Regions from separate parts of the Homo sapiens genome. Here region 1 is linked to region 2. Evidence: fine-mapped expression QTL. A gene starts in region 2. The other region holds a variant in brackets. All regions are shown on one strand. Distances are between the middles of the regions.

Region 1 (5,514 bases), 46 kb after region 2:
GGGATCCAGATCAGGCCCGTAAGAGGCAACCTCAGGACATCTGCTGGAAAAAAAAAAATATTCTGCTGGAGTTGCTAAACCAGGAAAACAAGCCTGTAACTCTGTGGCCATGACATCCCCAACACTGGGGCGGCTTCCCTGAAAAGCTCTCCTTTGCCAATGCACAGGAAGGCAAAGACATAACATTGTGAGAAGGAGAAAGAATTATTTCTAATATTGTTTGAGCCTGGATCCTACAATCCTAAAATAGGATCTACCTATAGGCTTTTCAATTATATAAGCTAATACATTCTTTTTTCTTAAGCCAATGTGAATATGGTTTTCACTTACTTCCAACCATAAGAGTCTCAATTATATAAATGTCTTTAATGTAGTGGCCTGCGGGGAGGTTGTTCAGCCTCCTAAGGTAACATCACTTAGTCTCTCAGGGATAACCTGGAGGCCTCCAACCATAAACAGACATTTCCTTTTGCCCATTTGAACTGAGAGACTATTCAATACCACTCACATCACAAAGGAGTTTACTTATTTGAAGCCCTATTTCTCTCCTTTCTCTTTATTGACTAGAGAAACCCAATCATTTCCTTTCAAAGGAAATCCATACTTATTTACTTGGTTCTTGTTTAAAAAAAGAAAAAACCAGCTCTCCTTTCTCTTCCCTCAGGGGAGACATTTTTGGATGTAGAACTCAGGGATGGAAGGGCTGTCAGAGGACACTGTAGTGCAGCCTTATTATCTCGCCAATGTGAAAGCAGAGGCTGCTCGCTGAGCCACTATCATCAGCAGCCAAGTCCTCCAGCTTCCAGGCCAGGGCCTGCCCTCCAACCCCAATATTCCAGCTGACACCAATGCCTCCAATGACCCTGTACATGGTCAAAGGTACTTATGGGTTGATTTAAATACTAAAGACTTGTGAAGATGCCTTTGGAGAAAAGCACAGTAGCCTTGGATTCTAGTCCCAGCTCTGTACTAACCAGCAGTGTCACCTTGGGGGATGTCATTTAACCATTTTAGGCTACTTTTTTAGTTTTTTGTTTTTTTTTTTTGAGATGGAGTCTCGCTCTGTCGCCCAGGCTGGAGTGCAGTGGTGCGGTCTCGGCTCACTGCAACCTCCGCCACCCAGGTTCACGCCATTCTCCTGCCTCAGCCTCCCGAGTAGCTGGGACTATAGGCACCCACCACCACGCCCAGATAATTTTTGTATTTTTACTAGAGACAGGGTTTCACCGTGTTAGCCAGGATGGTCTCGATCTCCCAACCTTGTGATCCACCCGCCTTGGCCTCCCAAAGAGCTGGTGAGCCACTGCACCCAGCCAGGCTTGTTTCTTTATTAATAAAATTGGGGGGTTGGACTAAGAGAATCATAAAATGTCAGAAGGTTAATGAAGCTAAGGCAGATGATCACAGACATATAGAAAACAGAGTGCTGAATCAGCAGCACAGAGGAATAAAAACTCATTCCAATGTTGGACTCTGAAGGTGAACATCTTCAAAAAGATGTAGGAAGAGAAGGAACTGAAAGCCCTATAAAGCTGTATACTGAAAACATGGCATTTCCCCCCCTTCTGTTCTCATATGAGCCATTGGTGCTTCCAAATTTGTCTCTTTAAATCTTCGTAAAACTGGAATGCACTATGTGCCGAGAAGTCAAGTTTGCCAATCTGTCTAGTGGTGCTGGTTTATGGCACTTATTACAGCTTATTATCCACAACTCCCCACTTTGACTCCAAAAATTGTCCTACAATCAGCAGAAAACTCATGGAGAATATATAAAGTATTCCTACAAAACAACAAGAAAAAAAGATAAATAATCCAATAGAGAAAATGGGCAGAAGACTTGAAAAGGCACTTCACAGAGGAAGGAGGCCAGCCAAGTGGCCAGTCAACAAATGCCAGGATGTCCCTCATCAGGAGTCATCACATAACTGCAAATTAACACCACAGCAAGACGTCGCCATGTACTCAACAGAATGGCCAAATTAAGAAAGGTAGAGGGGAAAAAGCCACGTAGAAGCAAAGCAAAAAGCCATGTAGAAGTAAAAAAGCCATGTAGAAGCAAAAAAAAAAAAAAAATTGGAGCACCTAGAACTCCCGTACACTGCCAGCGTGGGTTGTAAATTGGTGCAACTACTCTGGAAAAGTGTTTGACAGTCTCTAGTAGAGCTGTTCATGTGCAGAACCTATGACCCAGAAATTTGCTTCTAAGTATATGCAAAGAGAAAAGGGTAAAATATGTCCACCTAAAGACATGCACTAGGATCTTCAGGTCTATATTGATCCCCGACTGGGAACTACACAAAAGCTCATCAATGGTAGAAAACACAGACTAACTGTGGAATATTCACGCAACGACATACTATACACTGCACACAGCAGTGAGGATCAGCAGGCTAAAGCTGCACCCTAGAACATGAGCAAATCTCACAAACATATGTCCACTGAAGAAGGCAGATGCGGAAGATTACATTTTGTTTGATTTTGTAGAGAAACTACAAAAACAAGAGAAGCTAAGGTATGGTGTTAGAAGTCAGAATGATGGTTACCTGAGAGGGAATAAGTACAAGAGGACACAAAGCAGAAATTTCAGGAGTACTAGTCATCTGGTTATGTGAGTATGTTCAAGCTATAAACATCTAATGTGTGCACTTTTCAGTATGTATGTTGTAAACTTTAATAAAAAGTTCAAAAATATTTCTTTCGAATTATTCCAGCATTGATAATAAATGTCATGGTCACTATCATGAAGATCATATGTTGCATCTCTAACCACTGCTACATCTAATTGTTACTGTATTTGGAGATAGGGTCTTAACGAGGCAATTACAGTAAAATGGGGTCATTACAATGAGCCCCAATCTAATATGACTTGTGTCCTTACAGGAAGAGGAAATTTGGACACAGACATGCACAGACAAGAGGGACAACCACAGAAAGACACAGGGAGAAGAGGGCCATCTGTGAGCCAAGGAGAGAAGCCCCAAGAGCCAACCCTACCGACACCTTGATCTTAGACTTTTAGCCTCCGGAATTGTGAGACAATATATGTCTGTTGTTTATGCCACCGAACCCACGTTATTTTATCATGGTAGCCCCTAGCAAACTCATGTTGTCACCCAGGTTATCCCTGGCTTCCTTTTAAGCAGGTTACTGTGATGTAAATTAAGCCATTTCCAGGGAGGCAGAAGGATCTTGGGCTGCTGGTGGAGGTGAGGGGGTGGTCAAGGGAGTGGGCTGCTCCTCTACCCTGGAGCATCAGCTCCAGGCTGCTTCTGGCTTTCCCATCATTCCAAAATCTTCCTTGGCTGAACTAAAAAGGAGTGAGCCACCTTCCCAAGGCAATTGTGCGGGCTTCTCCACCTCAAAGCAATCACAGCAGAAGGGGTTCCAGGATTTTTGCTTTAATCATCACAGAAATGTTTCCAGCTAGAAGAGACAACAGAGATCATCTTACCCAGCCTTCTCATTTTGTAAATGAGGAAAGAAACATCAAGAGAAGTTAGGAAACTGGCCAAAGCCACACAGCTAGTTAGTGAGGAGCCAGGTTTC[C/T]GGACTGGGGCTCTGAATGCTGAGTCATTTTTGCCTTCGCTTTTTGAAGGGCAGGGCGAGGAAAAGGGATAAAGGGAATAGTTTAACTTCTTTTATAAGCTTTAACTTTATTCCTGACTTTTGAGGTGGCACCAGACTGTCCCAGTCTTCCTTCTCCCTCCATTCTTTTCTTACTCTTCTTTACTGTCCCTCTCTCCTTCCCTTCAGGCGCCCCTGGCCACAGCCCTTCTTTTTCAGATCTTCCTTCAACGGTATCAGGAGCGTGGAGTCCAGGGCACTGGGTTTTCCCAGCTGTGTGGCTTTAGGCAAGTCAATGAAACTCTGTGCTGGGCTTCCCTCGTCCATCCCAGGGGCTCCACTGCCTCTCTGGGGCTTGGGCAAGCTTCTTGAGGACTGAGCTCTGACTTTTTTTTTCCTTTTGAAGGGGCCTGGGGAGTCATGCCTTACAAACCATAAAATCTCATTAAATAGGTCTTATTTATTTATTTGAGACAGAGTCTCGCTTTGTCACCCAGGCTGGAGTGCAATGGCATGATCTTAGCTCACTGCAACCTCTGCCTCCCGAGTTCAAGTGTTTCTCCTGCCTCAGCCTCCTGAGTAGCTGGGATTACAGGCACCCGCCACCACACCCGGCTACTTTGTGTATTTTTAGTACAGACAGGGTTTCACCAGGTTGGTTAGGCTGCTCTTGAACTCCTGACCTTGTGATCCTCCCACCTCGGTCTGCAAAGTGCTGGGATTACAGGCATGAGCCACCGCACCTGGCCAACAGGTCTTATTTTTTGATCTACTACAATGTGGCTCACTTTTCAACCTTCTTCTGGTATGGCATCACATGATGGGTGGCAGACCCCCTTATTTTAACTTAAGTATTCCTTTCTATCAACTCCAAATTTTTAGACAAAGCTTAAGTCTTTCAATCAATTGCCACAAAAAGAATCCCTAAACCTACCTATGACTTGTAAGCTTCTGCTTCGCGGTATCCAGCTTTTTCAGGCTGAATCAATATATACCTTCCAGGTATTGATTTATGGCTTTACCTGCAATTTCTGACTCCATGAAATATATAAAGCCAAACTGTAACCCAACTGCCTCAAGTGCACTTTCTAAGGATTTCCTGAGACTGTTTCCCTGGTCCATGGTCACTCATATTGGCTCAGAATAAACCTTAGATATTTTGGTAGATTTTTGTTTTGTTTTGTTTTTGAGAGGGAGTCTCACTCTGTCGCCCAGGCTGGAGTGCAATGGTGCGATCTCAGCTCACTGCAACCTCCGCCTCCCAGTTTCAAGAAATTCTCGTGCCTCAGCCTCCACAGTAGGTGGGATTATAGGTGTGCGCCACCACACCTGGCTAAATTTTGTATTTGTAGGAGAGACAGGGTGTCACCATTTTGGCCTGGCTGGTCTCGAACTCCTGACTTCAAGTGATCCACCCACCTCAGCCTCCCAAAATGCTGGTACTACAGGCATAAGCCACTGCACCCTGCCAATTCTGGCAGACTTTTATTTTTCCATCGTCCTTCTCAAAGGTCTCTCCCCAGCCCAGGGGACCCCTCACCTCAGCAGGAGTACCCTCTGGGGCAGGAGAGCATGAGCAGAGTTAGGTGGACAGGTGGCCATCTCTATGCATATCCCTCTCATCGCCAGCCTGAGATTTGTGACAGGACCTCTCTAATGCCCCACACCCCAGCACCCTATGGAAGCTGCTGGAAATAGAGAAGATGCCTTCTTACTTAGGACGAAGGAACCAGAAGGCTGCAATGTATTGCATTGCCCAAGGCCCAGCTTGGGGTTTTATAAATTCACGCCCTGCAATAACCTTGGAAGATGGACATCACTGAACCCACTTAACAGCTGGGAAACAGGCTTGTCCAAAGACACCAGCTGGCTGGGCTGGAGACAGGGTCTGAGCTGGAATCTCTCTGGTTCCACCATACTCAAACCTTCTGTGGCACCCCAGCTGTCCCT
Region 2 (5,000 bases):
ACTGAAGTTTTTGTGAAGTTCGTTGTCCTGGTCCTCAAATTGTTTGTGGGTACACTCTGTAAACCTACAACAGGGCCTGCCAAAAAATCGGAGGGTTCCTCCTCATCTCCATCTCACAAATCTCAATTTGATGGAAATGTTCATTTTAGTGTAATTTCAGATTCGTTGCCAGAGATTCAGGTGATAGTAATAAGTGTCATTCTGCTTCTGCTGAAAAATGAAAAGGGTCCTGAAGTGTGGACACTGATTGGGAGTGTGACATTGTATCAGAAATGACCGAATTCTATTCCCAATACCAGTTTTTCCTTCCAGACATTTCTTTAGATTGTCTTTTACTTAGTGCTTCTCTATGATCCTGAATATTATTTGATTTTTATCTTCTTGCTCTTTTTATTAAAATCTGGGCACTCTAAAAATGAAAACAAATTTCTATTTGCAATGTTCACTTTTAAAAATAAAATTAATGGTGCTACGAAGAATTCTTTTTAATATCCTTTTTTTTCTACAAAGACTGTTTATATGTAAGGATAAATTCTATTTTAAAGGTTATGTGTATTTTTTCTAGATGTGAACTATTTATAATTACTTATGTACAGGAGCTTGTAAACTAGGCCCAATAGAAATATTTTTAGGATCTATATGGCTACTTTAGCACATAATTGTTTCTTTAAAGAGTATTGTATGATCAGTGTTATTTGGTTAATTTGTGCAATTTGTTTTATTTTATCTTAAATGAAAATTATGTAAAATGTCCTTGTCTTTCAGACTTTAAAAAATCTTTTTGTTTCCTTTCTGAATAAAAGTTATATCACATTTGCACCCTCTGAAAACAGAAAATAACTTGCTCAAGGACCTTTTGGCCCAGTCAGTTACTTGAATCATGACTCACACGTGCTCTTACAATGGGTTCCCAGAAGGAATAAATAAATTGGCCCTTTTGCTCCAGAGATAGTAATTTAGCCAATTGTAAGATCAGAGTCTGCAGACAGGTGAGTAATGGTCAAAGCATTTCAGTCTCCCCGAGGGGTTAACCAAATAGAAATGAAAGAAGGGGGAGAGGGAGGGAGGGAGGGAGAGAAGGAGCCTGAGGCAGATATGGAACGATCTCTGCAGAGGAATTACAAAGAAAGTCATTTAAGCCCCTTTACAGACCAGCTCTGCTGGGAGGATGCAGAAATAAATGATCAGCGTCCCGGCGTGAGAGAGCTGCCCCCAGAAGTGGCCGGGGGAGAAAAGGGTGAAGAGGAGCTAAAGCTTAGGAGGCGATTTCCACGGAAATGGATGCTCCCTAAGGATGTGCGGAAAGGGGATGGGAATGTGCGGATTGGGGGCGGGGGCACCAACGCACTCCGGCGGGCAAGCGGTCTCCCGCACCACCTGCTGCAAGGCTCGGGAAGGAAGGCGAAGATAGCACCGGGGCATCCCCGGGAGTCCGCAAGGTGGGTCACTTGGACTTTGCGGAAAGAAGACGAATTTGAGGGGTGTGGGGAGCAGCCAGAGGCCGAGTCCGAGGCTGGGATGGCCTTTCAGGAGAGGACGTGGGAGTATGTGCTAATAATCGGTGGCTTTGGGGAAAGCAGAATGGAGCCGGCTGGCGTTTGGGAGACAAGGAATGGAGGAGAACAACCCTCTTCCTCACCCTGATTTGCTTTCTGGTAGGACCTCACGGCAGGTGTCCCCGGGACGGCGTTCTCCTAGGCTAGGCGACCAGGGCGGTGTCAATGCACCCTCCAGCGGTGCGCGCAGGCGGGAGAAGGGAGGGCGGCCCGGGCAAGTGAGACAGTTAAGGCAGTGTCCCCACCACACCCCCACCCAGATTGGCCACGCCGAGCTGGTTCTTGACAGAAGGCCTTCGCGGAGGAAGAGGGGGCACAGCTGCACAGGACACCCTACGGAGCCTGCGGGCGTGGAACTTTGCCAGGCGCACGGGAACGCGCGCCCTTCCTGTCAGCCTCCCGGGGCGCCAGGCTCCCGCGGCCCGCAGCGGGACAGCCTCAGTTGTGTGGGCTGGACCCAGTCGCTGGGGTACCGACCAGTCCTGGAAGGCGCAGAGGACGTGGAGTGGGGAGGCTGCCTTCCTATGTGCGAAGGGCCAGCCGGGCACGCAGTCCTCAGACCCTAGTCCGCACCCGGCAGGTCCCCACGGCACCTGCTGCGCCCTCCTCGCCGCTCCCCCAACCTCCCCATCTCAGAAAACTACCAGTTCTCTCCCGCCCCCCGGCGCCCCTTTCCCAGGAACGTGCGGAGGCGGGAGAAGAGGAAGACAGGAAGGGGGTGGGGATGTGAAGCGACCGTCCCAGCCTTCCCCGCCCGCCACCCCCACCCCAACTCGGCAGCCGTCACGTGATGCCTGGAGTGGGAGGTGGGGAGAAAAGGCGAGACTTTTGTGGGTGCTCCCGATCGCCAGTAGTTCCTTCAGTCTCAGCCGCCAACTCCGGAGGCGCGGTGCTCGGCCCGGGAGCGCGAGCGGGAGGAGCAGAGACCCGCAGCCGGGAGCCCGAGCGCGGGCGATGCAGGCTCCGCGAGCGGCACCTGCGGCTCCTCTAAGCTACGACCGTCGTCTCCGCGGCAGCAGCGCGGGCCCCAGCAGCCTCGGCAGCCACAGCCGCTGCAGCCGGGGCAGCCTCCGCTGCTGTCGCCTCCTCTGATGCGCTTGCCCTCTCCCGGCCCCGGGACTCCGGGAGAATGTGGGTCCTAGGCATCGCGGCAACTTTTTGCGGATTGTTCTTGCTTCCAGGTGAGAATACCCAGAGGCCAGCAGCCGAGGCCAGGTGCGCACAATCCATCTACCCGCCAGCCCTTTTGCCCCCAAGGCGCCCACCTCGGGGCCAGCCCTGCGCTGGGGCTGCCCAGCGGGAGTTGGCGGCCGCGACTGGTGCCCCGGGGCGCGAGGCTGGGAAAGTGTCCAAGTCCCGCGCTGCAGGAGGAGAGCGGGGAGCGGCGGGTTTGCGGGACTCCGGGCTGCAGCTTGTCCGGCTGCACCGTCGGGAGAAGCTGGGCTTGAGAGGAGGGAGGGTCCGAGCGGTGCTGGGTTCTGGGCGAGGGAGAGGGGGCGACATCTCCCGAACCCTGCCAAGTTGTCTGGCGCCTCCGGCACCCCGTGGGAGTGGCGCCGCCGACAGGTGAGCGATGCGCGAGGCAGCCTGCGGCCACGCTGAAGCTGGGTTGCTGCGCTCAGAGTGCGATAGATGTGGGGCTGCGGGAGCGTGGGTAGTTGGGTCTAGACAGGAGCGCGTACACCGAGAACAGCCAGGCCGAAGCGTCCAGAGGCGCAAAGGTCTCGCGTCCTCTCTCCAGTTCGCCTACTGGCTCCCGACTAAGCTCTGCAGAGCTGGAACCCCGACCACTGACCCTAGTCGAACGGTTGTCCTGAAAGCCGGGGCCTGGAAGAAAGGGCTGCGGGGTCGGGGATCCAGGGTGCGCGCGCTCACAAACGCCCTTTCCCACCCTCTGTGGCCATTCGGGTCGCCGCGGGGACGGCCCCGGAGAAGGGCCGCCGACCCGGGCTCGGGGACTTGCGGCGCAGCAGCGCTTGGCGTCTGGCACCTCCACCCAAGTTGTTCCCAGGTGGTCGCTCAGGGATCCTCAGAGCCCTGGCACAGAAACGCTGACTTTAAAAATTAAATAAATAAAAACTAAAAAGACGTCTGCGAATGTAATCACGAATGGTGCCAAAATAGTAATTAAGTAATTTGTAACCAATTAGCAATTAGGCAAATCCTTTGGCTTAGGCTGGAGCTAACGCACATCTCCAGAGCTACTTCACTCTTGCGGTGGTACCGTCCCCACCCTCCCTTCAACTTCTTGGGAAAAGGCCTGGGGTGGTAATGGATGGGCGCTTTGTGTCTAGAGCCGGGGTCCAGGGGTGGCGGGCACTATTCCACTTTCTTCCGTAGGACCCTAGGTACCCGCGCCGCCCCCTGCCGGTGTCAGCCACATCCAGCCCTACCCGGAGACCCAGGAGTGGTCTAAGCCTGCCAGAGGCTGGGAGCCGCCTGGCTCTGAGGCGTGGGATGGTCGTGATTTCCGGGGTGGGCTCTGTGGGGGCCGGATCTGAACCCGACTGCGTCTGTCTCGCAGGCTTTGCGCTGCAAATCCAGTGCTACCAGTGTGAAGAATTCCAGCTGAACAACGACTGCTCCTCCCCCGAGTTCATTGTGAATTGCACGGTGAACGTTCAAGACATGTGTCAGAAAGAAGTGATGGAGCAAAGTGCCGGTAAGAGCCTGGCAGCCCTCCCCCTCGCTCTTAAGCCTGGGCTGTGGGGTGGGAGTGAGGGGGCCATTAAATAGCAGGAAAAAGGACTGACTTTGATTTAATGCCCACACACTGGTTATCGCAGATTTAGTTTTACAGTGCTGGGAAAATGAAGAGTTCCAAGTTACTTTAATCTCATTAGAGTTAATTACCAAGGCTTCTCCCCAAGGGTCTTGGGAGGGGAAGTGCATGTAAATTAGTGGCTCTCCTCTTTTTATTTACTCCCTTCACCTCCCTATGCTAAAAGCTGATGGAGGTAGAAAATATATGGCTAACCAGCCCTGGCTTGGGCAACTAGACAGTAGCCTGTGAGCATTGTCAGCCTGAAATATGGAGCTAGTTGAAGCTCCCAGAGGTCAGAGCTTGAAAAATGTGTTTTGTCATAGAGGCACACCATATTTCCTTGAAGAACACTACAGGATCTTTGTTTAATTTTAGAACTAATGCATCAACTTCCAGGCACAAATTGCCAAGATCTTTCAAAGGAATGCCGTTCTCAGCCCTACCAGCTTAGCTGCTGGCTAGCTGAGAAGAAGTCCTGAGCATCCTGTGGGGGAAGGGGAGGTCTTGTGGGATAGCCCTCACTCCCTCTAGTTGACCAAGAATCTTCTCACTGAGGTAGAACTTTCCAACCCTCTCCTCACCCCCTACCCCAGCTGTCTTATCAGAAGTCAAAGTTCCCCAAAGTATATCTGGAACTTTGGGAGAATAGGTAGAGCTGTTACTTCAGTTTCAAGGTCAAA

What was found. PIP is the estimated chance that this variant, and not a neighbour inherited with it, causes the effect.
Region 1: its variant is fine-mapped to the expression of LYPD1 in whole blood (TOPMed, PIP above 0.99).

What each region holds. Positions count from the first base shown.
Region 1 is chr2:132,621,632-132,627,145 of GRCh38, reverse strand. All of the region lies in intron 1 of GPR39 (G protein-coupled receptor 39), which reads right to left. Among named protein-coding and RNA genes, the nearest start is that of LYPD1, 46 kb to the left of the region's middle. The variant C/T (reference allele first, on the strand shown) is at 3,547.
Region 2 is chr2:132,667,618-132,672,617 of GRCh38, reverse strand. LYPD1 (LY6/PLAUR domain containing 1) reads left to right here and starts at 2,413. Exons shown (of 3, transcript NM_144586.7): 1 at 2,413-2,737; 2 at 4,081-4,218. The coding sequence starts at 2,686. NCKAP5 (NCK associated protein 5) reads left to right here. Exons shown (of 20, transcript NM_207363.3): 20 at 1-830. RefSeq lists an enhancer at 2,587-3,550.